Regions from separate parts of the Homo sapiens genome. Here regions 2 and 3 are each linked to region 1. The links come from fine-mapping of genetic effects on gene expression. A gene starts in region 1. Each other region holds a variant in brackets. All regions are shown on one strand. Distances are from middle to middle. Region 1 holds the start of SYCP2L (synaptonemal complex protein 2 like). Region 2 overlaps SYCP2L (synaptonemal complex protein 2 like). Region 3 overlaps SYCP2L (synaptonemal complex protein 2 like).

Region 1 (10,201 bases):
GATCCCGTTAAAACAAAACAAAACTTTGCCATGGCTTCCTCTGCATTAAAAATAAACCCAAAATCCTTTGCTTTAGTCCGCAGAACGTGGCATGATCTGATCTCTGACAGTCTGACCTCCTTGCTAATGAGTCCTAGGATAAGTCAAGCTCTTCCTTGCCTCGGGGCCTTTGAACTGGCTGTTCTAGGCCTGGGCTACTTCACCCCACCACTTTCCACATGGCTGGTTCCACTCAGATCACAGCTTAAGCATCACTTTTTCAGGTAGATCTTCCAGGACCACCTTATCTTACGTAGACCAGGTGCCTCCTCAACATTCCCAATTATTCCCCATCTCATTACCCTGTTCTTTTTCTTCCTGCTTCTTTGGCTCTCTGCCAGTCTATAAGCTCCATAAAGGCAGACGTTGTTTCTAGTTTGTTCAGTATCATCTATCTGCATTTAGGGCACAAGATATCTGCACAGGGCACAAGATAGTTTAGACTAGGATATTGGTAAGATAGCTAATGGTAAATTGACTAGATATAGTAATAAATTGGACATGAGAGATTAGGGAAGGAGAAGTAAAGATTTCTCTGCTTCTGATTTGAGCAACTGGAGGAACAAGTTTGCTAATGACCCAGGGAACACAGAACTAGAAAGAATACATACACTCATATACACATACACACACACACACACACACACACACACACACACACACACACACACACACAGAGAGAGATTATAAAAGAAACTTGATCTTTACCCAGAAAGCATCATCCTGGGCCTTCCCAGTCCTGTCTTCCTTAATAGGCTGCAAAGCATCTTTGTTTTTCTGTGTGGAATAAAAACATGTTTTTAAACAATTTTTATTTCAAAGAAATGCATTTCAAGTTTTAAACACAAAGCAAAAAAAAAAAAAAAAAAAATTAAAGGTTTGTATTGTTTTCCTGAACAGAAATTTTTGTTTGCTCATATTATAGGTCTAAGTAAAATAGTACTTAGAAAAAAGAGAAAAACTTTATCCAACCTTCTTTAGCATGGTCTAAGACAAATACAGTACAAACTATCAGAAGAAGCAAAGCAAACATCATTTGAATAAATAATCACACAAAATAAACAAACTCTATAATGATGATTATAAAGTAGAAGTAAAAAGGCTTTGAACTAATAAACCATTTTCAGAATGAGAGCTTGTAAAATAAAGTTAAATAAAAGTGTCTTTAAGGCATCATAGTACCTGACTTCAAAATATACTACAAAGTTATAGGAACAAAACAGCATGGTACTGGCATAAAAACAGACACATATGTAGACCAATGGAACAGAATAGATAAACCCAAAATAAATCTACTTTTTTATAGCCAACTGATTTTTGACAAAGGTGTCAAGAACATTCATGGGGAAAAGACAGTCTCTTCAATAACTGGTGCTGGGAAAACTGGATATTTATATGTGGAAGAATGAAACCAGATCCCATGTCTCACCATATACAAAAATCAACTCAAAATAAACTAAAAGCTTACACTTAAGATCCCAAACTACTAGAATAAAATATAGGGGAAACACTTTAGGACATTGGTCTGGGCAAAGATTTTATGGAGAAAACCTCAAAATCACAGGCAATGAAAGCAAAAATAGACAAATGAAATTATACAGACCAAAAAGCTTCTTACAGAAAGGGAAATAATAGAGTGAAGAGACAACCAGCAGAATGGGAGAATATATTTGCAAACTATGCATCCAACAAGCCATTAATATCTAGAATATACAGGGAACTCAAACACCTCAACAGCAAAATAACCAATCCAATTAAAAATGGGTAAATAAGCTAAATAGACATCTCTCCAAAGAAGACATACAAATGACCAACAGGTATATGAAAAAATACTCAACATCACTAATCATTGGAAAATGCAAATCAAAACCAAAATGAGATATTATCTTACCCCAGTTAGAATGGCCATTATCAAGACAAAAAACAACAAATGCTGGCAAGGATATGGAAAAAGAGGAACTCTTGTACACTGTTGGTAGGAATGTAAATTAGTATAGACAATATGGAAAACAGTATGGAGGTTCCTCAAAAAACTATCATAAATCCAGCAATTCCACTCCTGGAGATATATCCAAAAGAAAAGAAATCAGTATGTCAAAGGCATATCTGCACTCCCATGTTTACTGCAGCGCTATTCATAATAGCCAAGATATGGAATCAACTTAAGTGTCCATCAGTGGATGAATGGATAAAGAAAATGTGGTATATTCACACAGTGGAATACTTTTCAGCCAGAAAAAAGAACAAAATCCTGTCATTCATGGTAACATGCATGAGCCTGAAGGACATTATGCTAAATGAAATAAGCGGGGCACAGACAGACACACTGCATGTTCTTGATCACATGTAGAGGCTAAAAAAGCTGATCTCGGCCGGGTGCGGTGGCTCATGCCTGTAATCCCAGCACTTTGGGTGGCCGAGGTGGGTGGATCACCTGAGGTCAGGAGTTGGAGACCAGCCTGGCCAACATGACAAAACCCTGTCTCTACTAAAAATAGAAAATTATCCGGGCAGGGTGGCGCATGCCTGTAATCCCAGCTACGGGGGAGGCTGAAGCAAGAGAATCGCTTGAACCCGGGACGCGGAGGTTGCAATGAGCTAAGGTTGCACTATTGCACTCCAGCTGGGGAAGCAAGAGTGAAACTCCATCTCAAAAAAAAAAAAAAAAAAAAAGGCTGATCTCATAGAAGTAGAGAGAATAGTGGTCACTAGAAAAGAGGAAGTGAGATAGGCAGAGGTTAGTTAATGAACACAAAATTACAGCTAGCTGGAAGGAGTAAGTTCTAGAGTAAGATAGTACTGCAAGGTGACTATAATGTACAACTTATTGTATATTTTCAAATAGCTATACGAGTAGATTTTGAACATTCCCAACACAAAGAAATAAATATTTGAGGTGATGGATATGCATAATTACCCTGATTTGATCATTACACACTGTATACACATATGGAAATATCACACTACACCCAATTAACATGTGCAATTACTATGTGTCAATTAATATATGTGTCAATTAAAAATAAATGATAAAGGCAAAGAAAAAGAACCATTGTGTTAGTGGATAATTGAGTAGAGGCAAAAGTGAGATAGGAGGAACAGCTAAAGCTACAATTAAAATTGGGTGTTAGGCCAGGCGCAGTGGCTCACGCCTGTAATCCCAGCACTTTGGGAGGCCAAGGCGGGCATATCATGAGGTCAGGAGTTCGAGACCAGCCTGTCCAATATGGTGAAACCCGTCTCTACTAAAAAATACAAAAATTAGCTGGGCGCAGTGGCACGTGACTGTAGACCCAGCTACTCGTGAGGCTGAGGAAGGAGAATCACTCGAACCCAGGAGGTGGAGGTTGCAGTGAGCCGAGATCCAGCCACTGCGCTCCAGCCTGGGTGACAGAGTGAGACTCCGTATCAAAAAAAAAAGGGTGTTAATTCATAGCATAAACTGACATCAAATAAACACTATGCTACGTATCTATAATTTCTAAGTTTTGTCAACAAATTCTGAATTAGTGGGAAATACTTCCCATCCCAAAGAAAATATTCCCGGGAGCCTTTATGTTAAGCTTCTTTACCTCTTTTCTCTATAGACACGGCCCTATCTCTCCTTCAGTTCAATTCGTATGCAGAGATGCTCTGCTTATTTTTATTTCTACCTCCTTTCAACCTTCTCTGGCCTTGGTGGTCAGTACTTTGCAAATTCCAAAGAAATGCTTCCTGTTTCTGGAATTTCTGGAGCCACTCTAGTACACAGAAAGGTATCCCCCTTCTGTGAAGATCATGTGGCAGCTTTTGTGGGTAGGAACCTGACAGGAAAATCAGAAAGTGGGATGGTTTAGGCAGAAAAGATCGTTAGATTCTCTGAGATTCAGTCTCCTCATTTAAAAAACATGATGATAGCCGGGCGCTGTGGCTCACGCCTGTAATCCCAGCACTTTGGGAGGCCGAAGCGGGCAGATCATGAGGTCAAGAGACAGAGACCATCCTGGCCAACATGGTGAAACCCCGTCTCTACTAGAAATACAAAAATTACCCTGGCGTGGTGGCGCGCGCCTGTAGTCTCAGCTACTCGGGAGGCTGAGGTAGGAGAATCGCTTGAACCCGGGAGGCAGAGGTTGCAGTGAGCCAAGATCACGCCACTGCACTCCAGCCTGGGCGACAGAATGAGACTCCGTCTCAAAAAAAAAAAAAAAAAAAAAAAAAAAAAAAAAAAAAAAAAAAAAAAAGATGGTAACACCTATATGGAAGGATTGGAGTGAGGACTGACTGACAGAATGTCTGTAATGTTCTTAGCATAGTGCCTGGGCACATAAAAATGGCTCAGTGAATGGCAGCTTTCAATGTAACAGGGATGGAGAGGGTGAGGAGGTTATGCTTAAGTGCTCTGAATTTAAGCGTAGCTTGATGTTAGAAAGGTTTCTGTCCCAAATCTGTTTCCCCATGGCTGGGAAGATGGCGCCAGATGACAGATGGATTTTATGGAGAACAAGAGTGAGTTCCTGGATCTAGGCAAGCAGTTACCCCTGGCTATCAGAATCACCTGGCGTCCTCACTAACAAACTAACAAACTACCGGCCCACCGTAGACCAATTACATCAGAATTTCTACCACCAGGAACCCAGGCAGAAGAATGTTAGAAACACGCCCCAGGTGGTTTTTGTTTGTTGTTTTTGGCGTCCCTGGGTGGGCTCAAACTTCATGTGTTTTTTTTTATTATTTATTGATAAGTAATAATTGTAGCTTTATCTTAGGGGCTGTCCTTTGTCGTTCGGTTAAATGAAGTCCCAGCACTTGGGGTTGCTTAACACTTCTGCACTTTCTACGCAGCAAGGTGGAAAGAGGGCTGGAAAACCGGCTAGGAAAATACGCAAAGCAACTAGAAAAGAACTATCTCATTGCTTTCCGAACACGAATTCTCCGGTTCCCCTTTCCCTGAGCGCTATTTAGCTAGGGATCCGAGGTTTCTATTCTGCCTGGTCTCCCCGCAGGCTGCCAATACACTCCGAGCAAACCCAAGGAGGTGGCGGGGGACTATGCCCAGCACCCGGTCTCTGAGCGAACACCTCAAGGCGGCAGAACCTGAGCCCCAGGGACCCCGCGCCCTCGCGCGCCCTAGCACTGTGGACAGAAGGTCCGGGCCCTTCGGGGGTCACTCACCGCTTGCATAACGAGGCTTCTTCGTTCCTGAAGCGACGCGCCGCTCAGCTTTGTTGCGCTCGGTCGGCCCTCTCCTGCTTCCCCGCCCAAGAGCCCCGCCCGCTGGGGGCGCTGCCGAAAGAGCCCTGGTGGCGGACCGCTCTTCGAGTCGAGTCTTCTTCCGCAACTGTAATTGACGAATCCGCCCCCTGAAGTTTACTAGAGCTCTGTGTTTTGAGACTCAAGAAGCGCGTGCAAGTAACTAGCGCACACAGGCCAAACCACCTGGGCGCACGCACTCACCCTTTAAGAGAAAGCCAGCACTCAAAGGATGTGAACTACGTCATTTAAACGTTCCTTATTTGCGAAATTCCAAACAGATAGGCGTTCGCTTTGTGGTAGCTGTTCCAAGTTTTTGCCCCGCCTTAAAAAGCCAGAGGGGCGGCCAGGCGCGGTGGCTCACGCCTGTAATCCCAGCACTTTGGGTGGCCGAGGCTGGTGGATCACTTGAGGTCAGGAGTTCAAGACCAGTCTGGTCAACATGGTGAAACCTTGTCTCTACTAAAAATACAAAAAATTAGCCGGGCGCGGTGCACGTGCCTGTAATCCTAGCTGTTGGGGAGGCTGAGGCAGGAGAATCACTTGAACCCGGGAGGCGGAGGTTGCAGTGAGCGGAGATCTCGCCACTGCACTCCAGCCTGGGGGACAGAGTGAGACTCCGTCTCAAAAAAAAAACAGCCAGAGGAGCAGTTTTTGGTCCATTGATGTGTGCAGACAGAAGCCGAACCCTTTCCTATGGTAACCAGACTTGTACCCGATATTATTAATACATTCCTGATTTCACACACACACAAAGTGTGTTTGGTGGTTGTTTTTTAAGTACCGTGGTGGGGAGGAAGGGGAATTTTTTTTTTTAATCAAAGCAAATAGTTTTGTTTTTGTTTTTGTTTTTTTGTTTCTTTGTTTGCCTATTTCCTTTAACCTGACAAGTATGCGTACCAATGGCTAGGCTGATTCGGATAGGTGGCCAGTTGTGTGAACACGGTGGCAAAATTAAATTGGACTAGAGTTTTCCACAAAAAACAAAAAAAAGACCCCTCCAATCCAAACATCCTTTGTGTAAAAATCAACTTGTATTATAACTAGACCTGTGAGTATTTCAAGTCATAATATGTACGGAAGATATTTGTCTACACCAAAGCAAAACATAACAAAACCAGAACCCCTGTTAGCCCAGGACTTGCACACATTTCTAGTCCGTTCAAAACAATGTTTATGTCAAAGCCTGTCATATCAATTTCCTGGAAAGTATAATGTAAACATTCTTACATTAATTTACCTATTTTAATCTAAACCAAGGAAATTCAAACGCAAGTTTTTTTCCTTTTCAATGAATGGACTTTTGTAATATTAAACTAGTAATCAAGACAGGAACAGCTGTGAGTATAAGCTATTGTGAGTCAATACAAATATAATACCAGGGCAAGAAAGAAACAATGAATAATAAGAAGCAATAAACAAAATACTACAGTTTAAATGAATTTTAAGAGAATATTTAAAAATTAGAGTTTTCATAATATTAGATAGAAAACTTAATCATCTATTATTTTCAGGCTTTGGGGGAAAACATGTCCTTCCAAAGTCTATGGTGCAATGCATTCAAATCTTTAAGAGAAATTAAAAATAACAGAATAGGCAAAATACCTTTTATCTGGTTTTTTTTTTACTTTGATTAGCTTCTTTTACTAACATGTTTTGTCTTAATATAATTTATGGCAACTTGAAATGCATACTCTAATTCTTCTCAAACTAAATATAGTAGAGGCTCTATGACATTTCTTTGGATACCAGAATCCCTTTAGAAATTAATTGATTTGCCTTTTACATAAAAAAGTTTTATTTATTTATGTTTTTGACGGGTCAGGTCTCTCTAGGAACATTCCAAAAGCACAGAGACAAGAACTATTCTAGCACTGCAATAAGACCAAAAATTAATTTCTATGCATTTTCAGAGGTAACTTTAAATCACCATTTTAAAGTTATTTTTAGAACATTTGAAAGGATAAGTTATCTTAGACTACAACATTTAATGAAATACTATAATTAAAATGGATAATCAATAAATTTTCATTCAATTTTGGAAGACAAAACAACACGAAAAGCAACTGAATCAACAGGAGTTTCGGGGACCTTTGGCAGACAGTTAATAAGATGAAAAATCTGTGAATGAAACTCGTGGGTGAAGAGTAGACAGATCTCTTCGTTCCCAGCTAGACCTCAGTGGCGACCATTTGAGAGTGATTTTAATCAGAAACCTTGACTGACAGGACCTTTTAGGAGGGGAGAACTTCGGGAGAAAGGAGGCTGGGAATGAACAAATCACTTTCTTCTGCTAGGACCCTTCGGCTTTGACTGGGAGGAGGACCCCAGCTAGAAGATAAAGGAGGAAAAAATCGCGAGGAACTGCTCGAAGTTGGCCTTTCTTCCCAACAGAGTTCGCTGGTCCGCTGCCACTGGCAGGCTTCTCTGACCGACTGGGATACTTTTTCTTTCTTCTTTCCTTTTCTTTTTTTTTTCTTTTTCTTTTCTTTCTCCTTCCTTGCTTCCTTCCTCTCTCTCTCTCTCTTTCTTTCTGTCTTTCTTTCCTTCCTTTTTTTTTTTTTTTTTTTTGAGACAGGGTCTCGTTCTGTCGCCCAGGCTCGGCGCTATCTCAGGTTACTGCAACCACTGCCTCCTGGATTCAAGCGATCCTCCCGCCTCAGCCTCCCAAGTAGCTGGGACTACAGGCACACGCCACCATGCCCGGCTTTTTTTTTTTTTTTTTTTTTCGAAGAGACAGGGTTTCGCCATGTTGCCCAGTCTGGTCTTGCACTCCTGGGCTCAAGCGATCCTCCCGTCTCGGCCTCCCAAAGTGCTGGGATTACAGGCATGAGCCACTGCGCCCAATCGCGGGATGGACTTTTCTAAGCAAGCCTCACTGTGCCTTTGGCGCGGGAAGTAAAAGGACAGGGAGCGTGGACCACCCTTAGCTTCCTGATGTGGTTTCGCTCTTCCTTTATCCGCCTTTTGCCAACCGAAGGCACTAATCCTGCAAGAGGCGTTGGCATGGGCGCCCTCCTGGCCGAGTCCCGGGCAGCACCCGTCCGTGCGCTCAGCACGGGCTTTGCGGTGCCAAGGCCTAGGGTGCGTCGCTTCCCGGGTCTGGAGGGTCATGGATTCGGTTCATCCTCCTCTATCAAGGGATCTGCCGTGAGGAGTTGGCTCCTCTTCTCTGGCTGGGGCTGGGAATGGAAGCGTGCAGCTGCAAAACAAGGACGCGGGCAATAAATTCCAGAAGCCCTTTCCCCTGGCCGCCAAGAATCCGGCCTTGGGGTAGTCAAAGAGTGACTTTAGTCACTTCAATCGGTTTTGTTTTGTTTTGTTTGTTTTTTGTTTTTTGTTTTTTTTATATATATATATACTGAGGGTCTCCATGTGCCGGAGTAGCCCTGGGCGAGTCGGCTGCTCAGATGATGAAGGTTTCGTCCCAGCCCCGGAGAACCCACATTGTCCTGCGCACCTCCGCACCACCGCGATTCTCTAGTCCTCCAAAGCCTCCCAAGACTGTAATGGAGTAAATTCAATTTCGTCGTGATATTTCCAAGACTATATCAGTGAAGTTTTTTTTTAAGAGTTGTGGGCCGGGCGCGGTGGCTCACGCCTTTAATCCCAGCACTTTGAGAGGCCGAGACAGGAGGATCACGAAGTCAAAAAATCGAGACCATCCTGGCCAACTTGGTAAAACCCTGTCTCTACTAACAATACAAAATTAGCTGGTCGCGATGGCGCGCCTGTAGTTCCAGCTACTCGGGAGGCTGAGGCAGGAGAATCGTTTGAACCTGGGAGGCGGAGGTTGCAGTGAGCCGAGATTGCGCCACTGCACTCCAGCCGGGAAGACAGAGTGAGACTCCGTCTCAAAAAAAAAAAAAAAAAAAAAGATTTGTGTTCGGGTGGGTGGCAACTGAGAGCTCGCCGAACCACAACCTCTTATTTAACAGATAAACAGATAAGGAAGCTGAGACCCAGAGGGAGCCAAAGCAGTGGAGAAAGCGAGTTCTTTGGGACTTTTCCCCTCTCCCCTTTCCCTCCTTCCCCAGGCTCCCACCTACCCCAGGCTCCCACCTACCCCGGGCTCATTTCCGCCCCCCACCTCCTCCAGGTTCACTTTGTAGGACTCCGTTCCTGCAGGGCCAGGTCCCTCCGAAGTCCCCGGGAGCGTGAAGGCGCCTGGGCTCGCGAGCATACGCGGAGGCTTGGCGCACCCTGGCACGTCCCAAACAGCAGAGCCAAGACTGCGAGACACTCACAATAGTTAGGGGAAGAGCCGGCAGTGGAGGCCCAAAATGGGCTGACCCCTAACTAGGAGGCGTGGGCGCGGTTATTCAGGCTAGGGCGCACGCGGACGGCAGAGGGGCCCACGCACGGTTCCCATGCTCTCCTGGAATTGAGTGTTGGCTCTCAGGGGACTTTGCTGGAAAGCCTCCATCTAAGCCCCTTTCCGAAATCAGGGAAGCTGGACGCGTTTAGAAAAAAGAAAAAAAATAGGCCGGTCGCGGTTGCTCACGCCTGTAATCCCAGCACTTTGGGAGGCCCAGGCGGGCAGATCGTCAGGAGTTCAAGACCAGCTTGGTCAGGGTTTCGCATGGCTAAAACCTGTCTCTACTAAAAATACAAAAATTAGCCAGGGTGGTGGCACGGACCTGTATTCCCAGCTACTCGGGAGGTTGAGGCAGGAGAATCGCTTGAACCTGGGAGGCAGAGGTTGCAGTTAGCTGAGATGGCGCCACTGCACTCTAGCCTGGGCAACAGAGTGAGACAAAAAAGAAGAAAAGAAAAGAAGAAAATAATAAGGTTTTAAACTTAAAGGATACATTCCTACTTACCCTCTCCACCCCCACCCTCTGGCTGCAGTTTCCATTTGCTTCCAGGGCTGAGTTTAACCTCCACCTCCGTTCCTGGGACTGTGGTGGAGGGGGCGACCGGCCCCTGG
Region 2 (10,201 bases), 51 kb before region 1:
GAAAGAAATTAATAAGTAATAATCTGGTATGGAAGGATTCTAAGCCAATGGCAATTTTCTAGTTCCCAGTTTGAGCTGTGGTTACACAGATGTTCACTTTATAGTCATTCTTTAAACTGTACACATCTATCTCTTCTGAATGTATGGTATTTCTCACAACGCACGAATGAACAAAAAAGCAGAGACTCAGACATAAAATTAAGGGGAGGGGGTGGGATGGGTTTCAGGTAAAGCATACCAGGATTTTGAAAGCAATAGTAATGTTATATTCCTAAAACAGGATGGTGGTTTGCAGATATTTGTTGCATTAATATTCTAAATATCCTACACATATTTATAACTAGTTGAATCCTTTCGATACGTAATTTTAAAAGTAGAGAAAAAAATGCAGTCAAGAAACATCATAAACAGTAGAAAAGTATTATATTAACTCATTACATTATATTAGATACAACATTGTGAACCAGACTGGAAATCTTCATACCACTGTTAACATGAGTAAATGAACTCAGAAGTTTTAATAATTTGACCACACAATGTTTTAGAACATTTCTTATAAACCACAAGTGACCTACATGCTTGAGAATGAAATCAGCTCTGGATGAGACCCTTAGCAAAGTACCGCCACTGTGCCCTCCTCTGAGGCTGGAGAGAAGGTGTGACTGGCTGGTGGGATTCAGGTCCCAGGCTATACCTTCCTTGGCACAAGAGGTCCTGGTTCCTGAATGGAGCCCCCCATTTTTCCTCCTAACCTTCATGAACATTTAGAACTAGTAAGCAGCTCACACTGCTCCCTCCACGGCCTGGCAATAGTCACTGTGCAAAGTGACTTGATCTGCAATCTGAGTAACAGCCCAGTCTGCCAAAATCAGATTAATTTCATTTTATTCTGCAAAAAAAAAAAAAAAAGTACTATTCTCTTACCTTTGTCTTCCAAGTTTCTCAGCTTATGTTTCAAGCTAGTACTTTCTGTTAGTGATTCTTGGTTCACAATCTTAAAAACAAAACAGACCACAAATTACGTCCTTTATGGCAAAGCAAGAAACAAGTGGTGTACTCGTCAGAAGGAATAGCCAATGTGTTATGCAAATATGATATTAATTCTGGAAAATCAGATGAATAACCAACAATTAAATAGTACCTTAGGTTTTTCTTCATCTTCTGAGTGCTTCAAGGAAGAGAGCTCACTCAGTGAGTGAGGATCTTGAAGCTCTGAGCATTAGAGAGAAGTTTCAAGTGAATACACGCCAAGTAACAAAGCAATAAGAATTCACTATCATTCTAGATATTAAATCTCATCATCAAAAAAAAGGAACACAGTTCTAAGTGAAACAAAAATCTACTGACTGTGTCTTTCGGGACACGAATTCTTTTTTATTATACTTTTAAGTTTTAGGGTACATGTGCACAACGTGCAGGTTACGTATGTATACATGTGCCATGTTGGTGTGCTGCACCCATTAACTCGTCATTTAACATTAGATATATCTCTTAATGCTATCCCTCCCCCCTCCCCCCACCCCACAACAGGCCCCAGTGTGTGATGTTCCCTTTCCTGTGTCCATGTGTTCTCATTGTTCAATTCCCACCTATGAGTGAGAACATGTGGTGTTTTTCATCCTTGCGAGTTTGCTGAGAATGATGGTTTCCAGCTTCATCCATGTCCCTACAAAGGACATGAAATCATCATTTTTTATGGCTGCATAGTATTCCATGGTGTATATGTGCCACATTTTCTTAATCCAGTCTATCGTTGTTGGACATTTGGGTTGGTTCCAAGTCTTTGCTATTGTGAATAGTGCCACAATAAATATACCTGTGCATGTGTCTTTATAGCAGCATGTTTTATAATCCTTTGGGTATATACCCAGTAATGGGATGGCTGGGTCAAATGGTATTTCTAGTTCTAGATCCCTGAGGAATCACCACACTGACTTCCACAATGGTTGAACTAGTTTACACTCCCACCAACAGTGTAAAAGAAAAGTGTGCCTATTTCTCCACATCCTCTCCAGCATCTGTTGTTTCCTGACTTTTTAATGATCGCCATTCTAACTGGTGTGAGATGGTATCTCATTGCGGTTTTGATTTGCATTTCTCTGATGGCCAGTGATGGTGAGCATTTTTTCATGTGTCTGTTGGCTGCATAAATGTCTTCTTTTGAGAAGTGTCTGTTCATATCCTTTGCCCACTTTTGGATGGGGTTGTTTTTTTCTTGTAAATTTGTTTGAGTTCTTTGTAGATTCTGGATATTAGCCCTTTGTCAGATGAGTAGATGGCAAAAATTTTCTCCCATTCTGTAGGTTGCCTGTTCACTCTGATGGTGGTTTCTTTTGCTGTGCAGAAGCTCTTTAGTTTAATTAGATCCCATTTGTCAATTTTGGCTTTTGTTGCCATTGCTTTTGGTGTTTTAGACACGAAGTCCTTGCCCATGCCTGTGTCCTGAATGGTATTGCTGAGGTTTTCTTCTAGGGTTTTTATGGTTTTAAGTCTAACATTTAAGTCTTTAATCCATCTTGAATTAATGTTTGTTTAAGGTGTAAGGAAGGGATCCAGTTTCAGCTTTCTACATACGGCTAGACGATTTTCCCAGCACCACTTATTAAATAGGGAATCCTTTCCCCATTTCTTGTTTTTGTCAGGTTTGTCAAAGATGAATTCTTATTAGGTTTGTACATCTGTAGTTAAGATTAACAGCCAGTTACTTCAACTAGATCGGCACCTTAAGGAGCTGCCCATCTGGCCTCAAATAACACGGGCAGGGATTCTTCCACCTCAATCTTGTGATTCTTCTCTCCCTTAGAAACCCCTCCCTTATTGCCTCTTACTCTTTTTTGATGATTTGATATACATATATACGGTGTAATGATTATCACTTTCAAATCGATGAACACATCCATCACTACCTGTGCTGTATATTACATCCCCAGAACTTGTTCATGTTATGCCTGAAAGTTTATATCCTTCGAGGACCATCTCCTCTTTCCCCCCACCTCCTAGCACCTGGCAACCACTGTTCCATTCTCTGTTTCTATGAGTTTGACTTTTTTACATTCCGTATATATGTGAGATTATATAGTATTTGTCCTTTAGTGACTAGCTTATTTCACTTACTATAATGTCCTCCAGGTTTATCCATGTTGTTGCATATGGCCTGATTTCCTTCTTTTTTGAGGCTGAATAGTATTCCATTATTAATATATACCACATTTTCTATATTCATTCATCCACTGACCAGTGCTTAGGCTGATTCCATATCCTGGCTATTGTGAATAATGCTGCAATAAACATGGGAGTGCAGATCTCTCTTCAAGATGCTGATTTTATCTGCTTTGGATATATACATGGAAGTGGGATTGATGGATTCTATACAATTCTAATTTTTTTGAGAAAACACCATACTGTTTTCCACAATAGTTGCATCAGTTTACATTCTCACCAACAGCGTACAATTGTTCCCTTCTCTCCATACCCTTGCCAACACTTGTTATCTCCTGTCTTTTCGATAATAGCTATCTGGACAGGTGTGAGATATCACATTATGGTTTTGATTTGCATTTCTCTAATGATCAGTGATGTTGAGTACATATACCCATTAGCCATTTGTGCTTCTTTTTTGGAAAAATGTCTATTCAGCTTCTTTACCCATTTTTAATTAGGTTATGTGTTGTCTTGCTTTTGAGTTGTGGAAGTTATTTTGAATATTAACCCCTAACCTATTATCAGATATATGATTTGCAATATTTTCTCCCATTCTTTAGGTTGTCTTTCCATTTGATTGATTGCTTTCTTTGCTGTGCACAAGATTTTTAGTATGACATAGTCCCAAAAGTTTATTGTGCTATTAGGGTTGTATGCAAGAAATCATTGCTAAGACCAATGTCAAAGAGCTGTTTCCCTATTTTTGTCTTGTACAGTTTTAGATCTTAAAGTCTTAACCTATTTTGAGTTGATTTTTGTATATGGTATAAAACAAAGGCCCAATTTCATTGTTTAGTATGTGGATAACCAGTTTTCCCAAAACATTTATTGAAGACGCTTTCCTTTCCTCATTGTGTATTCTTGGTGCCCTTTTCAAAGATTAAGTGGCCATATATATGTGTAGGTTTATGTCTGGGCCCATAATGTTATCTTGGCCTATGTGCCTGTCTCTATGGCAGTACTATACTGTTTTGATTACTATAGTTTTTGAATACACTTTGAAATCAGAAAGTGTGATGCCTCCAGCTTTATTCCTCTTTCTCAAGATTGCTTTGGCTATTTAGGATCTTTTGTGGTTCCATATAAATTTTAGGATAGTTTTTTCTATTTCTGTGAAAAATGCCAGTAGAAATTTGATAGCAGTTGAATTGAATCTGTATATTGCTTTGGATAATAAGGACATTTTAACAATTCTTCCAATCCATGTACATAGGATATTCTTCCATTTATTTGTGTCTTCAATTAATTTCATCAATGTCTTATAGTTTTCAGATTATGACCTTTCACCTCCTTGGTTATTTTTATGTGTTTTT[T/C]GTAAGCTATTATCAATGAAATTTTCTTTTTTTTTTTGAGATGGAGTCTCGTTGTGTCACCCAGGCTGAAATGCAGTGGCGTGATCTCAGCTCACTGCAACCTGCACCTCCTGGATTCAAGCAATTCTCCCGCGTCAGCCTCCTGAGTAGCTGGGACTACAGGAGTGTGCCACCATGCCTAGCTAATATGTTGTATTTTTAGTAGAGATGGGGTTTCACTGTGTTAGCTGGGATGGTCTCGATCTCCTGACCTCGTAATCCTCCGGCCTTGGCGTCCCAAAGTGCTGGGATTACAGGCATGAGCCACCATGCTTGGCTGAGATTTTCTTGATTTCTTTCTTAGACAGTTTACTGTTAGTGTCTAGAAATGCAACTGATTTTTGTTTTGTTTTGTTGAAACCCAGAAGCAAACCCCACAACTGATTTTTGTATGTTGATTTTGTATCCTGCAACTTTACTGAATTCATTTATTAGTTCTAACAGTTTTTTGGTGAAGCCTTTACAGTTTGATATATGTAAAATCATGTCATCTTTAAACAAAAACAATTTAACATCTTCCTATTTGGATGTCTTTTATTTCTTTTTCTTGCCTGGATAGAACTGGGTAGGACTTCCAGTACTATGTTAAACAGAAGTGGCAAGAGTAGACACCTTTGTCGTATTCCTGATCTTAGAGGAAAAGCTTTCAGCTTTTCACCATTGAGTGGAATGCTAGCTCTGGGCTTGTCATATATGGCCTTTTTAATATTGAGGTGCATTCTATATGTACTTAATTTGTTGAAAGTCATTATGAAAGGATGTTAAATTTTGTCAAATGCTTTTTTTGCATCTATTGAAATGATTCTATGAATTTAACCTTCATTCTCTTAATGTGGTTTATCACATTTATTGATTTGCATATATGGAAACTTCCTTGAATCTCAGGGATAAATCCTACTTTAACATGGTGTATAGTCCTTTTAATGTGCTATTTAGTAAGTTTTGCTAGTATTTTTGAGGGTTTTTACATATACGTTCATCAGAGACATTGGCCTGTAATTTTCTTTTCTTGTAGCATTCTTATCTGGCTTTGACAAGAGGGTAATGCTGGCCTCATAAAATGGGTTTGGAAGTGTTCTGTCCACCTCAGTTTTTTGGAAGAGTTTGAAAAGGATTGGCATTAATTTTTCTTTAAATACTTGGTAGAGTTCACCAGTGAAACCGTCTGGCCCTGGGCTACTCTCCGTTGGGAGGTTTGATTACTGATTTGATCTCCTTACTCATTATGGGTCTGTTCAGCTTTTCTATTTCTTTATATTCAGTCTTGGTAGGTCGCATGTTTCTAGAAACTCACCCATTTCTTCTAGGTTATCCAATTTGTTGGTGTATAATTTGTTTGTTGTAATGGCTTATGATCCTTTGTAGTTCTGTGGTATCAGTTGTAGTGTCTCCTTTTTCATTAACAGTTTTTTTTGAGTCCTCTCTTTCTCTTGGTTAGTCTAGCTAAAGGTCTGTCAATTTCATTCTTTCCAAACACAAACTCTTAGTTTCATTGAACATTTCTATTGTCTTTCTAGTGCCTACTTCATTTATTTATGCCTTAATATTTGTTATTTTCTTCGTTAAGCTGACTTTGGGTTTAGTTTCTTCTTTTTTCAGTTTCTTGAGGGGTGAAGTTACTTGGGATTTTCCTTTTTTCTTAAGGTAGGTATTTATTGCTAATAAACTCCCCTTTTAACACTGCTCTTGCTGCATCCTGTAAATTTTGGTATGTTTCCATTTTCATTTATCTCAAGATTTTTTAATTTCCCTTTTAATTTATTTGATCCATTGGTTATTCGGGAGTGTGTTGTTTAATTTCCATGTATTTGTGAATTTTCCAATCTTCCTCCTGCTATTATTTCTAGTTTCATACTGCTGTGATCAGAAAAGACATCTGAGATTATCTCAATCTTTTCAAATTTGTTAAGATGTATTTTGTAGCCCAACATATGATCAATTCTGGAGAATGTCCCATGCGCACTGTACACTGGAGAAGAATAAGTGTTCCACTGCTGTTAGATGGAATGTTCTGTATATGTTAGTTAGATTCATCTGGTCTACAGTATTATTCAAGCCACTGTTTCCTTATTGATTTTCTATCTGGATAATCTATCGACTATTGAAGGTGGGGTAATTAAAGAACTCTTTTATTGTATTGCTATTTCTCTCTTCAGGTCTATTAATATTTGCTTTATACATTTAGGTGCTGTAATGTTGGGTGCATATATATATTTACAATTGCTATTTCCTGTTGATGAATTAACCCTTTTATCATCATCTAGTCTTTGTCTCTTGTGACAAATTTTGACAGAAAGTCTATTTTGCCTGATGTAGGTATAACCACATCCCTGCTCTCTTTTGATTGCCATTTGCATGGAATATCTTTTTCCGACCCTTCACTTTCAGTTTATATCTGTCCTTAAGGTACAGTGAGTCCCCTGTAAGCAGCAGATTGCTGAATCTCACTTTTTTCTATCCATTCAACCACTCTGTGTCTTTTGATTGGAGAATTTAATCCATTTAAAGTAATTATTGATAGGTAAAAACTTAGTATTGCCATTTTGTTGATTGTTACTCTTTTGTAGTAACTTTGTTCCTTTCTTCCCTATCTTGCTCTCTTCCTTCCTTTTAATCTATTTTTTTTTCTTTGTGAGATAGAGTCTCACTCTGTCGCCCAGGCTGGAGTGCAGTGGCTCACTGCAACCTCTGCCTCCCGGTTCAAGCAATTCTCCTGTCTCAGCCTCCCGAGTAGCTGGGACTACAGGTGCCTGCCACCATGCCTGGCTAGTTTTTGTATTTTTAGTAGAGACGAGGTTTCACTATATTGGTCAGGCTGGTCTCGAACTCCTGACCTCAGGTGATCTGCCCGCCTCAGCCTCCCAAAGTGCTGGGATTACAGGAGGGAGCCACTGCGCCTGACCCCTTTTATTCTTTAATGTTACATTTTCCTCTCTACTTTTTGATTTTCCCTACTTATTTTCTTCCAGTGGCAGCTACACTAACAGATTGTTATTGAAGTACTTACTAAATATCATTGTATGCCTGGCAATGTGAACTGCAGAATAATGAACAATATTAATATTGTTATTAATAATAATAAAATCATATTATTAACAAACTTAAAAACACAGTCAAAATAAAATACAGTGAGGGTTAAGAAAAAGCCTATAGGTTAAGGGTTGGCAAACTCTGGCCCCCAAGTCAGATCCAGTCTGCTACCTGATTTTATAAATAAAGTTTTATGGAAAGACAGCCACCCCATTGGCTTACATCTTATCCATGGCCAATTTTGTGCAACAACTGCAGAGTTGAATAGTCACAACAGAAACCATATGGATCAAGTCTGGCCATGGTGGCTCACGCCTGTAGTCCCAGCACTTTGGGAAGGCAAGGTGGGCAGATCACTTGAGGTCAGGAGTTCCAGACTGGACTGGCCAACATGGTGAAACTCCGTCTCAACTAAAAATACAAAAATTAGCCGGGCATGGGAGGCTGAGGCAGGAGAATCGCTTGAACCTGGGAGGCGGAGGTTGCAGTGAGCCAGGAGCACACCATTGCACTCCAGCCTGGGTGACAGAGCAAGACTCCGTGTCAAAAAAAAAGAAAAGAAAAAGAAACCATATGGATCAAAAAGCAAAAAATATTTACTATTGGAACCTTACAAAAAATGTTTACCAACCCCTGCTACAGGTCATCATTTGAGATGTCTTGCTTCTTTAAAAAAAGAAGAGACCAGCAATTCTTGGGTACAAGATGATCTCAAATGGCACAGCAAAATTAAAACATCATATCCTCTGTTAATTTGCTAATAAGAGACATTAAGGTAAAGAACAATGTTATCTTCATATTTTCTTTAATAGATATTAAAATAAAAATGTTTTGTTTACTTCAAACTACCTTTCCCAAATACAAATTTTTTCCTATGTAAGTCAACAGAAAATCATGTACCTGTTTTCTGGGCAGAATCTTCAGCAGTCAAAAAAGCAAAACTATCTTGGAATTTTTGTTCAGAAGTCTTTGGAGATGTGGTGTTATTTTGCTCGGGTATTTCTTTCTCTGATGGTGATAGAAGCTTAGCCTAAAATATAGTATCTTTTTTAAGTGTTAACATTCATAATTAAAAACAAGTTATCAAAATATTGTAAGACATTTTCAATATTACTTTAAGAAGCTTAAGTATTAGATTTACTCCATTTGAAAATAAATGCTAATTCTACTAAGAATTTCTGTGTGTTTTTAGTTGAGGGGTGGATATTAGCTTAATGCCATGGTACTGAATCTGAATTAGGTCATTTACTCTTTCTCGAGATACAGAAATGAAAATCTCATGAATCCTTGGAAATCAGAAATTCTGTTAGGTAAAAAGAGAAAGGCTGGCACCTGATCCCAGACTCTGGTTTTCACAGTTGGAAAGAATCTTACAGATTCTTGAATTTCCAATTTCCAGTTATCTTTTTTAAGATGGAATCACTCTGTCACCCAGGCTAGAGTGCAGTAGTGTGATCTCAACTCACTGCAACCTCCACCTACTGAGTTCAAGCAATTCTCGTGCCTCAGCCTCATGAGTAGCTGGAATCATAGGCACGCGCCACCACACCCAGCTAATTTTTTTGTATTTTATTAGAGATGGGGTTTCGCCATGTTGGCCAGGCTGGCCTCAAACTCCTGACCTCAGGTGATCTGCCCGCCTTGGCCTCCCAAAGCGCTGGGATTACAGGCATGTGCCACCGCACCCAGCCAATTTCCAGTTGTCTTCTAATGGCTCTGCATTCAAGTACTGCTCCCCTCAAATGGACAATAGATTCAAACCTTGACTCTTTGAATTATTTTTAAAGTATATATTGAGACAGAAATGTTTTCCTTAGGAACTACAACATCACTATTTTCATTAATTTAAAATTACCTTAAAGACATTTGCAAATAATAGTACTTTCATTAAATACATTAATAAAAACCAAAGGGGAGGGAGAATAAAGCAAGCTTATTTCAGAGATTTAGTTAAGAGAGAGACAGAGTGCACGAGACAGAGACAGAGGGAATGTGCCTGTCTAAAGTCCTAGGGTCAAAGCAAAGCGACTACTCATTTAAACATTCCTGCTCTACCTGCCTCTATTCTATTACAGCATGAGAACTGATCTGCCTAATGATCCTAGTGAAAATCCTAAATGATCAATGATTCAATTATATTTCCTTTACTCAGCTTACTAAGCTAAGAAAATAAAATATCTAACAATTAGAATTAGTGTAAGGGGATACTAGATTTAAATTTTAATTGGCAGGAAAATTACATTAACTAAATCCTTCCTTCTTGAGGATTAATTGAGTTAATTGAGATTTTACTGCAGTAAATAAAATTCTGACTGCATTTTTACTGAATAGGAAATTTCTCCTTGTGCTTTCATTCAAAGTTTGGTATAAATGCTATTGAGCTTCTCTTTTTAATTTTTCAAAGACACATCTAATAAACGTAGCCACAAAAAAATAAATACTAAGATCGTAAGACCCCTGAATTGGAAGAACGTGAAGTCATATTTCAGTAGATAACTCGAAGTGTGGTCTCGAAGTGTGGTCTAGACTGGCACATGAGCAGTATCTGGGAACTTGATGGAAATGCAAATTCTCAAGTCCCATCTATTCAATTCAAAACTCTAGGGACAGGACCCAGC
Region 3 (10,201 bases), 37 kb before region 1:
GCGGAGGCTGGTGATCACCTGAGGTCAGGAGTTTGAGACCAGTCTGGCCAACATGGCAAATCCCAGTCTCTACTAAAGATACAAAAATTAGGTAGGCATGGTGGCATGCCCCTATAATCCTAGCTACTCAGGAGGCTGAAGCAGGAGAATTGCTTGAACCCAGAAGGCGGAGGTGGCAGTGAGCCAAGATTGTGCCATTAGCGAAACTCAGTCTTAAAAAAAAAAAAAAAGTAAAGAAAAGAGTATACACAAACATGGAGGCAAAAACAATCTCAAGGAGGGGATGGTCAAAAAATTGACAGATGGCTGATGGGGCATGGTGGCTCATGCCTGTAATCCCAGAGATTTGGGAAGCCAAAATGGGAGAATCTCTTAAGTCCAGGAGTTTGAGACCAGCCTGGGGAATGGAGCGAGACTCCATCTCTATAAAAAATTTTAAAATAAGCCAGGCGTGGTGGCACCACCTGTAGTTCTTGCTACTCAAGAAGCTGAAGCGGGAGGATCACATGAGCCTGGGAGGCTGAGGCCACGGTGAGCTATGATGACAGAACAAGGCCTTGTCTTAAAAAAATTTTTTTAAATTGACAGATGGTTGGCCAGGAGAAAATGGTCCATGAACCAGGAAAGGTGGCTTCCACCTGTCACAGTCCCACTGGAGACAGATAAGAAACTTGAGCCCCACTCCCTGTACTCACAGGTTGTTGCGGGAAGTCAGGGACCCCGAACGGAGGGACCGGCTGAAGCTATGGCAGAAGAACGTGGATTGTGAAGATTTCATAGACATTTATTAGTTCCCCAAATTAATACTTTTATAATTTCTTATGCCTGTCTTTACTCAATCTCTGAACATAAATTGTGAAGATTTCATGGACACTTATCACTTCCCCTTGTGATTTCCTATGCCTTGTGATACCCTTGTATCACAAGGGTATCACAATACCCTTGTGATTTCCTATGCCTGTCTTTAATCTCTTAATCCTGTCAGCTGAGGAGGATGTATGTCACCTCAGGACCCTGTGATGATTGCGTTAACTGCACAAATTGTAGAGCATGTGTGTTTGAACAATATGAAATCTGGGCACCTTGAAAAAAGAACAGGATAACAGCAATGTTCAGGGAATAAGAGAGATAACCTTAAACTCTGACCGCCGGTGAGCCGGGTGGAACAGAGCCATATTTCTCTTCCTTCAAAAGCAAATGGGAGAAATATCGCTGAATTCTTTTTCTCAGCAAGGAACATACCTGAGAAAGAGAATGCGCCCCTGAGGGTGGGCCTCTAAAATGGCCCCCTTGGGTGTGACCATCTTCTATGGTCGAGACTGTAGGGATAAAATAAGCCCCAGTCTCCCATAGCGCTCCCAGGCTTATTAGGGCGAGGAAATTCTCGCCTAATAAATTTTGGTCAGACCGGTTGCTCTCAAACCCTGTCTCCTGATACGATGTTATTGATGACAATGGTGCCCGAAACTTCATTAGCAATTTTAATTTCGCCCCGGTCCTGTGGTCCTGTGATCTCGCCCTGCCTCCATTTGCCTTGTGATATTCTATTACCTTGTGAAGTACGTGATCTCTGTGACCCACACCCTATTCGTACACTCCCTCCCCTTTTGAAAATCCCTAATAAAAACTTGCTGGTTTTACAGCTCAGGGGGCATCACGGAACCTACCGACATGTGATGTCTCCCCTGGATGCCCAACTTTAAAATTTCTCTCTTTTGTAGTCCGTCCCTTTATTTCTCAACCTGGCCGATGCTTAGGGAAAATAGAAAAGAACCTACGTGACTATCAGAGGCAGGTTCCCCAATAACAGGTGGCTCAGATTGGTCATTTAAGTGGAGAGTTATTAGGCAGCGGTCATCTTCAGCACTCATAAACTCCACCATGTTAGTGGATTCTTCTGCCTGCTCTATACAAATTAAGAAAAAGACTAATATAATAACCGTGCACACGCTGACATACTCACCAGTGGTCTTCATGGGATGTCCCCTCTGGTACCTCTCCATCCTTTGGTAAGACCTGGTAATTAGGTCCTGCCTCAAACCTCCAATCAGAAAGCTATGGGTACAGGCTGGCATGTTGGCTCACGTCTGTAATCCCAGGACTTTGGGAGGCCAAAATGGGCAGATCACTTGAGGCCAGGAGTTTGAGACCAGCCTGGCCAACATGGCAAAATCCCGTCTCTGCTGAAAATACAAAAAATTAGCTGGGCATGGTGGCACACACCTGTAGTACCAGCTACTTGGGAGGCTGAGGCAGAAGAGTTGCTTAAACCTAGGAGGCAGAGGTTGCAGTGAGCCGAGATCGTGCCACTGCACTCCAGCCTGGGCAACAGAGCAAGACTCCATCTCAAAAAAAAAAAAAAAAGAAAAGAAATCTATGGGCACTTGGGAAAACAGCCTTGGGGCATAACTCAAAAGAGAAACACGGTCTAGTGCAGGGCCGACTTTGTGGGTAGACAAGACCTTCCTTACCCCCATGTCCTGCCTCCCCCAAACCCCATCATTTCTTCTTTGTCATTTCCAGTTGACCCACAAGAGAGACCTTAACAGGTGTAGAAAACAATTCAAGGCTATCAGCAACTCTTCTTCCTCCAGAAGTGCCATCAGACACGCATCACTCATATGACCACAGGTTTCCAGTGACCTCTTCCAACTAAGGTTTCATCGCTTTTACAGAAAACTCAGGGTCAGAATTTTGTTATTTCCCAATATACCTGTTTCTCTTTCAAGGCCACTGGGACTCTCCCTGTCTTCTTTATCAGACTTACTAAAAAGTTCTGAGGAGATTTTCGTCTGGTCAGGCAACATCTGAAATGCAAGACAAAGGTCAACTTTGAAATGTAGTCATCTTTAAAAAAAAAAAAATTTAAGGAAAACGTAAAGCTTAGAACAAAACACACTGATAAATCAGAAGTTAGTCAAGTTTACCAGTTTGTCCTCTCCTGAAGGATCATTCCACTGTTTCTGGCTTCTCCAGGCCCCACCTCCCTACAGGACCAGCTCGGGCTAGCCATTCCCCTGCTCCAAGCACTCTTTCCTGGTATCTTCCCAGCCTCTCCTGTCTCTGGCCCAGGTCTTACCCCATTGGGTAACGTCTAACCGCTGCTTCTCTCAGGCACTGAGTCTCTTTCAGGATGAGTCTGTAGTGAGTTCCCAACTATAGGGTCCTCAGTCCAACCCCTTTCCCTAGAATAGGGGCCTCCTATTCTAGGAACTACAGCTTTATCACAGGAAAATCCTCATTCTCCCCTCAAAACGTTATTATTCATTTTGTGAAACTGGAAAGACATATGATTTCGATGTTTTTGTGAGTTAAGGCAAACTTGTCTTCAGAACATATGTAATTTGATGGAGGAGGTGTTTTTTAACCAAGTGACTGATTTCCCCTTTATTTCTCATCCTCATCCATGAAATGGCCTTTTTGTAAAAAGACCATGTCATTAAAATAAGGTGAGTTTTTAGAAACTATTTTCAGAGCACTTTGCTACATATAAACACCTTCATATACAACTCAAACCAAAAGGAAACCAGCCCAAGACTTCCTTATCTGGTCTCTGAGCTCTTAATTCAACTTTCTATGGGCCATTACCACAGTATTTTTTGCCTTTTGTCACAAATTTCTTTGCCCTGTCTACCATCTGTGATACAGAAAGGTTTCCTGTTTCTGTCAATAAGTAGGAAACAGAGAGAGTTGGAGACCACAGCAATCTAGAGAAGTACAGACCATTTCCACAAGATAAGACCAACAGGTACAACTGTGGAAAAAGTCCCTCAGAAACTTTATTCCTAATGACTCCCTGATACAGTCTGGCTGTGTCCCCACCCAAATCTCATCTTGAATTGTAGCTCCCGTAATTCCCACATGTCATGGGAGAGACCCCATGGGAGGTAACTGAAACATGGGGATGGGTCTTTCCCATGCTGTTCTGACAGTAAGTCTCACAAGATCTGATGGTTTTATAAAGGGGAGTTCCCCTACTCTCTTGCCTGCCGCCATGTAAGATGTGACTTTGCTCCTCCTTTGCCTTCTACCATGATTGTGAAGCCTCCCCAGCCATGTTGAACTGTGAGTCCATTAAACCTCTTTCCTTTATAAATTACCCAGTCTCTGGTATGTCTTTATTAGCAGCGTGAGAACAGACTAATACACTCCCCCTAGGTCCAGGGGGAGCTGAGAGAGACAGAAATGCCAGTGTCCTCAGGACTCCAGGAAGAAGGTGGTAACAGGGTGATATTATCCTAGAAAACCTTTCAGCTGTTCACAGTTAGTAGAGTAAAGCATTTCAAGGAACAAAGAGGCTTTCTATCCTACCTCAAGACAATGACCCATCAAAAGGGAAAACTGGGATTTAAATCCAGAACTCTCAACTCTTTTTTACATGGCATTTGAAAGACCAGGTTTTCTGCTTTATCAAATATTCACATCAAAACCCAACAAGGACATTTAATAGACATGAAACATACTAAAACATTTTTAAATAATCCAAAAGAATGAAACCTGCCACCTGTTTGTCTTCTCCTAAAGCTTGAATGGAAACTTGTGATATGTTGAACTGCAAATCAAAATGGATTTCTATTTTCATGACTTCTTTGTAGCTGATAATCATGGGCTTCTTCAGGTAAATGATAAATATCTTTATCTTCTCCGTTTCTAAGAGAAAATATGGAATATCAATGCATAGCAACATACTTCAATGTTTTATTTTAAAATTTTATCATTTTAAATAACTACGCTAGGGTATTTGTCCAGATTTTTCTGTGTTAAGAAGTTGAAAAGAAATCATATTAAATAACATTACTTTGAAATTGTCCTTTAGATGCACATGTATTTACACATATACACATACAACACAATTAAGTGGTTGATCTTGCAAACATTGGAAGTAACTTACCTTAGCAGCAAAGAAATGAAGATAGTTTTGTCTTCTGCAATTCAGTTTTTTTAAGAGCATTTTGTTTATACAAGGCTATCATCTGCAACAGGTATTTTATTCCCAAATATACTATGCACAATATTCACTCTCTCTCTCTCTGAAATTCTACTTATTTCTAAAATTGAAAATAAAACTCACTGTCCCCAATGTGCAAAATGGAATAATCTACCACCATTTCAATGGACTCCACTTGAAGAAGAGACGGAAACACCTTAGAAAAAATTCTGTAGGCCAGGCGTGGTGGCTCACGCCTGTAATCCCAGCACTTTGGGAGGCCGAGGCGGGTGGATCACGAGGTCAGGAGATGGAGACCATCCTGGCTAACACGGTGAAACCCTGTCTCTGCTAAAAATACAAAAAAATTAGCCGGGCGTGGTGGTGGGTGCTTCTAGTCCCAGCTATTCGGGAGGCTGAGGCGGGAGAATGGCGTGAACCCAGGAGGCGGAGCTTGCAGTGAGCCGAGATCGTGCCACTGCACTCCAGCCTGGAGGAGAGAGCTAGACTCCGTCTCAAGAAAAAAAAAAAAAAAGAAAAAGAAAAAGAAAGAAGTCTGCGTCTCCCAGCACTTTGGGAGGCCGAGGCGGGTGCATCACGAAGTCAGGAGTTTGAAACCAGCCTGACCAACACACTGAAACCCTATCTCTACTGAAAATACAAAAATTAGCTGGGCGTGGTGGTGCACCCCTGTAATCCCAGCTACTCAGGAGGCTGAGGCAGGAGAATTGCTTGAACCCGCTAAGCGGAGGTTGCAATGAGCCGAGATCATGCCACTGCACTCCAGCCTGGGTGACAGAGCAAGCCTCCATCTCAAAAAAAAAAAAAAAAAAAAAAAGTGTGTGTTTCAGACAATAGCCTCCTTGCAGCCTCCTCCCAGGTCACCAGCCCTTTCCTGACAAATTGTAATCGGGCTTACAAGAG[A/G]AAATGGCTTAGACCAAATTCACAAAGAGGCCAAGAATACACCACATTAAGTACAAGGTAAGTCGGAAGAAGGAGAATAGAAAAGGCAGCAAAGTCCAGGAAAGAACAGGCAAAGCTAATGGCCACAAATTAATGAGACGGGAAACAAGGGGAAAAAAGAGGGAAACATACATGAGTCTAAATCTGTGAGGTCCAACTCATCAGAGTACTGAAAGCATGCCTAGTACTAACCGAGATGCTCTGTAAGCACAAAATACGCATCGGATTATGAAGACTCAGTACACAAAAGAAGAATGTAAAATGTATCATTAATAATTTTAAAATATTGATTACATGTTAAAATAATATTCTGGATATTATTATTCCAGGATATAATATTCTGGGTTAAACAAAATATATTAATAAAATTAATCTACTTAATCTACTTTTTTAATCTACTCAAATTAATCTACTTTTTTCTTTAATGTGACTACTAGAAAATTTTAAATTAAGTATCTGGCTCACCTCATATTTCTATAGGACAGTGCTGGTCTAGAGTAAGCCTCCATGATCTCCCCAAAATACTAATCTTGCCGGACATTTTACTCATCACTCCAGGGAAAGTCTATAAAACCATGCAACAAAAGTAATCTTAAATATCTTAAAAAGTAACTAGCTAATTGTTAGCCCGGCATGGTGGCGGGCGCCTGTAGTCCCAGCTACTCGGGATGTTGAGGCAGAAGAATGGCGTGAACCCGGGAGGAGGAGCTTGCAGTGAGCTGAGATCGCACCACTGCACTCCAGCCTGGACGACAGAGTGAGACTTCGTCTCAAAAAAAAAAAAAAAAAAGTAACTAGCTAACTGGGCCGTGGGATCAATGCAAACATATACAAGGGTCAGAAGAAATACCATGAGGGCTACATCAAGCTTCCAACATACTACACTGCCAACTCCATAACCAGAAGGGCTATGATACAGAACAAAAGTCTTACTTACGGAATTTACTAGACAATCATCAGTTTCTTTGGCTATAAGAATGGAAAGAGTAATACCTACTTCCTGTAGAAATTGTGAGGCACTTTGTAAATTAAAAACCATGAACCACAGAAACGTGATCTATTCATGAAGTTACAAAATATTAACTTTGGCAAGTTGACTCCTGAAAGCTGTTAACTGAGCACCCACATTCTTAAAGAAAATAATGAATTATTTTTACCTTTTTCCTTTTCCCCCACCTCTTACTTAGCTCTTTAGGAATGCAATTATGAAAAACAAACAAACAAACAAACAAAAAACATTAAAAAGTGGTCGGCCAGGCATGTTGGCTCACGCCTGTAATCCAGCACTTTGGGAGGCCGAGGCGGGCAGATCACGAGGTCAGGAGACCGAGACCATCCTGGCTAACACGGTGAAACCCCGTCTTTACTAAAAAATACAAAAAATTAGCCAGGTGTGGTGGCGGGCGCCTGTAGTCCCAGCTACTCGGGAGGCTGAGGCAGAAGAATGGCATGAACCCAGGAGGCGGAGCTTGCAGTGAGCCAAGATCGCGCCACTGCACTTCAGCCTGGGCGACAGAGCGAGACTCCATCTCAAAAAAAAAAAAAGGTGGTCAAAGGACATAAACAGACACTTCTCAAAAGAAGATATTCATGCAGCCAACAAACGTATGAAAAAAACCTCAACATCACTGATCATCAGAGAAATGCAAATCAAAACCACAATGAGATACCATCTCATGCCAGTCAGAATGGCTATTATTAAAAAGTCAAACAACAGATGCTGGCAAGGTTGCGGAGAAAAAGGAAGACTTTACACTGTTGGTGGGAGCGTAAATTAGTTCAACCATTGTGGAAGGCAGTGTGGTGATTCCTCAAAGACCTAGAGAAAGAAATACCATTTGACCCAGCAATCCCATTACTGGGTATATGCCTAAAGGAATATAAATCATTCTATTATAAAAATACATGCACACCTATGTTCATTGCAGCACTATTCACAATAGCAAAGACATGGAATCAATCTAAATTCCCATCAATGATAGACTGGATAAAGAAAATGTGGTACATACACACCTTGGAATACTATGCAGCCATAAAAAAAATGAGATCATGTCCTTTGCAGGGACATGGATGGAGCTTGAAGCCATCATCCACAGCAAACTAACACAGGAACAGAAAACCAAACACCGCATGTTCTCACTTATAAGTGGGAGCTGAATGATGAGAACACATGGACACATTGCGGGGAACACATACTGGGGCCTGGGTATGTTGGGGGAGAACATCAGGAAGAACAACTAATGGATGCTGGGCTTAACACTTAGGTGATGGGATGATCTGTGCAGCAAACCACTATGGCACATGTAACAAACCTGTACATCCTGCACATGTACCTATGTAACAAACCTGTACATCCTGCACCTATGTAACAAACCTGTACATCCTGCACATGTACCCATGAACTTAAAAGTTGAAGAAAAAAAAAAAGGAACGCAATTATAACATTTACCTTCTTTCCATGAGGCACTCTCTGTCCTGCAGAGAGTATGTAACAAACCTGTACATCCCGCACATGTACCCATTAACTTAAAAGTTACCTATGTAACAAACCTGTAACAAACCTGTGTAGGTTTACCTATGTAACAAACCTGTACATCCTGCACATGTACCCATGAACTTAAAATAAAAGTTGAAGAAAATAAAAAAAGGAACGCAATTATAACATTTACCTTCTTCCCATGAGGCACTCTCTGTGCTGCAAGCTCATCTAACTATATGTTTGCTTAGAAATTCTAAGGAGGCCAGGCACGGTGTCTCACGCCTGTAATCTCAGCACTTTGGGAGGGCGAGGCTGTTGGATCACTTGAGGTCAGGAGTTCGAGACCAGCCTGGCCAACATGGCAAAACCCCATCTCTACTAAAATACAAAAATTAGCTGGGTATGGTGGTATAGGCCTGTAATCCCAGCTACTCAGGAGGCTGAGGCAGGAGAATCGTTTGAACACAGGAGGCAGAGGTTGCAGTGAGCCAAGATCACGCCACTGCACTCCAGCCTGGGTGACACAGTGAGAGTCTCAAAACCAAACCAAACCAAACCAAACAAAACAAAAAGAAATTCTAAGGAACAAACGTTGAACCAAACCAGGCACCCCCTGAGATTCTCCCCACCAGGAGATTGCCTTGAGACAACAGTCAATGTACAACCTAGTTCTGCCCACGATGGCACCAGCCAGACCACCTGATGGATAAGACATCAAAGCAAGTCATGAAGACCCCACACTTCCTCACTCTCTCCCTTACATGCCATTCATGCCAAGTCCCCTTTAAAATCCCCTGCTTTCTTGCTCACCCATTGCCTGCAAACAGACTTGGTGGTTTTGAGGGTGGGGGGTACCGTGGGAGTGAGACCGGCCCTTTGGATTGCATGGGAGCTGGGTGAGGCCTGTGACTGCTGACTTTTCCCCATTTCCCTGACAACCTGCATGACTCAGCAGAGACAGCCATAATCCTCCTAGGAACATAACTCCATTGACCTGGGAACCTCACCCATATCCCCACAGCAGCCACAGCAAGACCCACCCAAGGAGAGTCTGAGTTCAGACACTCCTAATCCTGCCCCCACCCAATGATCCTTCCCTACCTATCCTGGTAACTGAAGACTAAGGGAATATACTCTTGGGAGTTCTAGGGCCCCACCCACCGCCTGTTCCTCCCTACACTACCATAGCTGATGCTCTCTGGAAATCACCACCTACCGGCAGAAGGCCAACCAGCACAAAAACAGAGCATTAAACTACCAAAGTTAAGAACCATCACAGAGTCCATTTCACCCCACTGCCACCTCCATCAGAACAGGTGCTGGTATCCATGGCTGAGAGACCCATAGACAGTTCACATCACAGGACTCTGTACAGACAACCCCCAGTACCAGCCCGGAGCCTAGTAGACTTGCTGGGTGGCTAGATCCTGAAGAGAGATAATAGTCCCTACGGCTCGGCTCTCAGGAAGCCACAACCATAGGAAAAGAGGGAGAGTACTACATCAAGGGCACACCCCATGGGACAAAAGAATCTGAACAACAGCCTTCAGCCCCAGACCTTCCCTCTGACAGAGCCTACCCAAATGAGAAAGAACCAGAAAACCAACTCTAGTACTATGACAAAATAAGGTTCTTTAACACCCTCCAAAAATCATACTAGCTCACCAGCAATGGATCCAAACCAAGAAGAAATCCCTGATGTACCTGAAAAAGAATTCAGGAGGTTAGTTATTAAGCTAATCAGGGAGGCACCAGAGAAAGGTGAAGCCCAATGTAAGGAAATAAAAAAATCATACAAGAAGTGAAAGGAGAACTATTCAATGAAATAGATG

Evidence for each region. PIP is the estimated chance that this variant, and not a neighbour inherited with it, causes the effect. A credible set is the group of variants that fine-mapping cannot tell apart.
Region 2: its variant is the best candidate, but not a certain one, in a credible set for the expression of SYCP2L in esophagus muscle (GTEx, PIP 0.87).
Region 3: its variant is the best candidate, but not a certain one, in a credible set for the expression of SYCP2L in left ventricle (GTEx, PIP 0.83).

Annotation. Positions count from the first base shown.
Region 1 is chr6:10,882,128-10,892,328 of GRCh38, reverse strand. SYCP2L (synaptonemal complex protein 2 like) reads right to left here and starts at 5,277. Exons shown (of 30, transcript NM_001040274.3): 1 at 5,194-5,277; 2 at 748-816. The coding sequence starts at 5,202. RefSeq lists an enhancer at 5,342-6,110 and a silencer at 10,099-10,201.
Region 2 is chr6:10,933,470-10,943,670 of GRCh38, reverse strand. It overlaps SYCP2L (synaptonemal complex protein 2 like), which reads right to left. Exons shown (of 30, transcript NM_001040274.3): 21 at 8,484-8,613; 22 at 1,142-1,212; 23 at 925-994. All of the region lies in intron 2 of LOC101928191 (a long non-coding RNA gene), which reads left to right. Among named protein-coding and RNA genes, the nearest start is that of SYCP2L, 52 kb to the right of the region's middle. The variant T/C (reference allele first, on the strand shown) is at 4,515.
Region 3 is chr6:10,918,945-10,929,145 of GRCh38, reverse strand. It overlaps SYCP2L (synaptonemal complex protein 2 like), which reads right to left. Exons shown (of 30, transcript NM_001040274.3): 15 at 4,505-4,650; 16 at 2,714-2,807; 17 at 1,779-1,906; 18 at 696-743. Among named protein-coding and RNA genes, the nearest start is that of SYCP2L, 37 kb to the right of the region's middle. The variant A/G (reference allele first, on the strand shown) is at 5,852.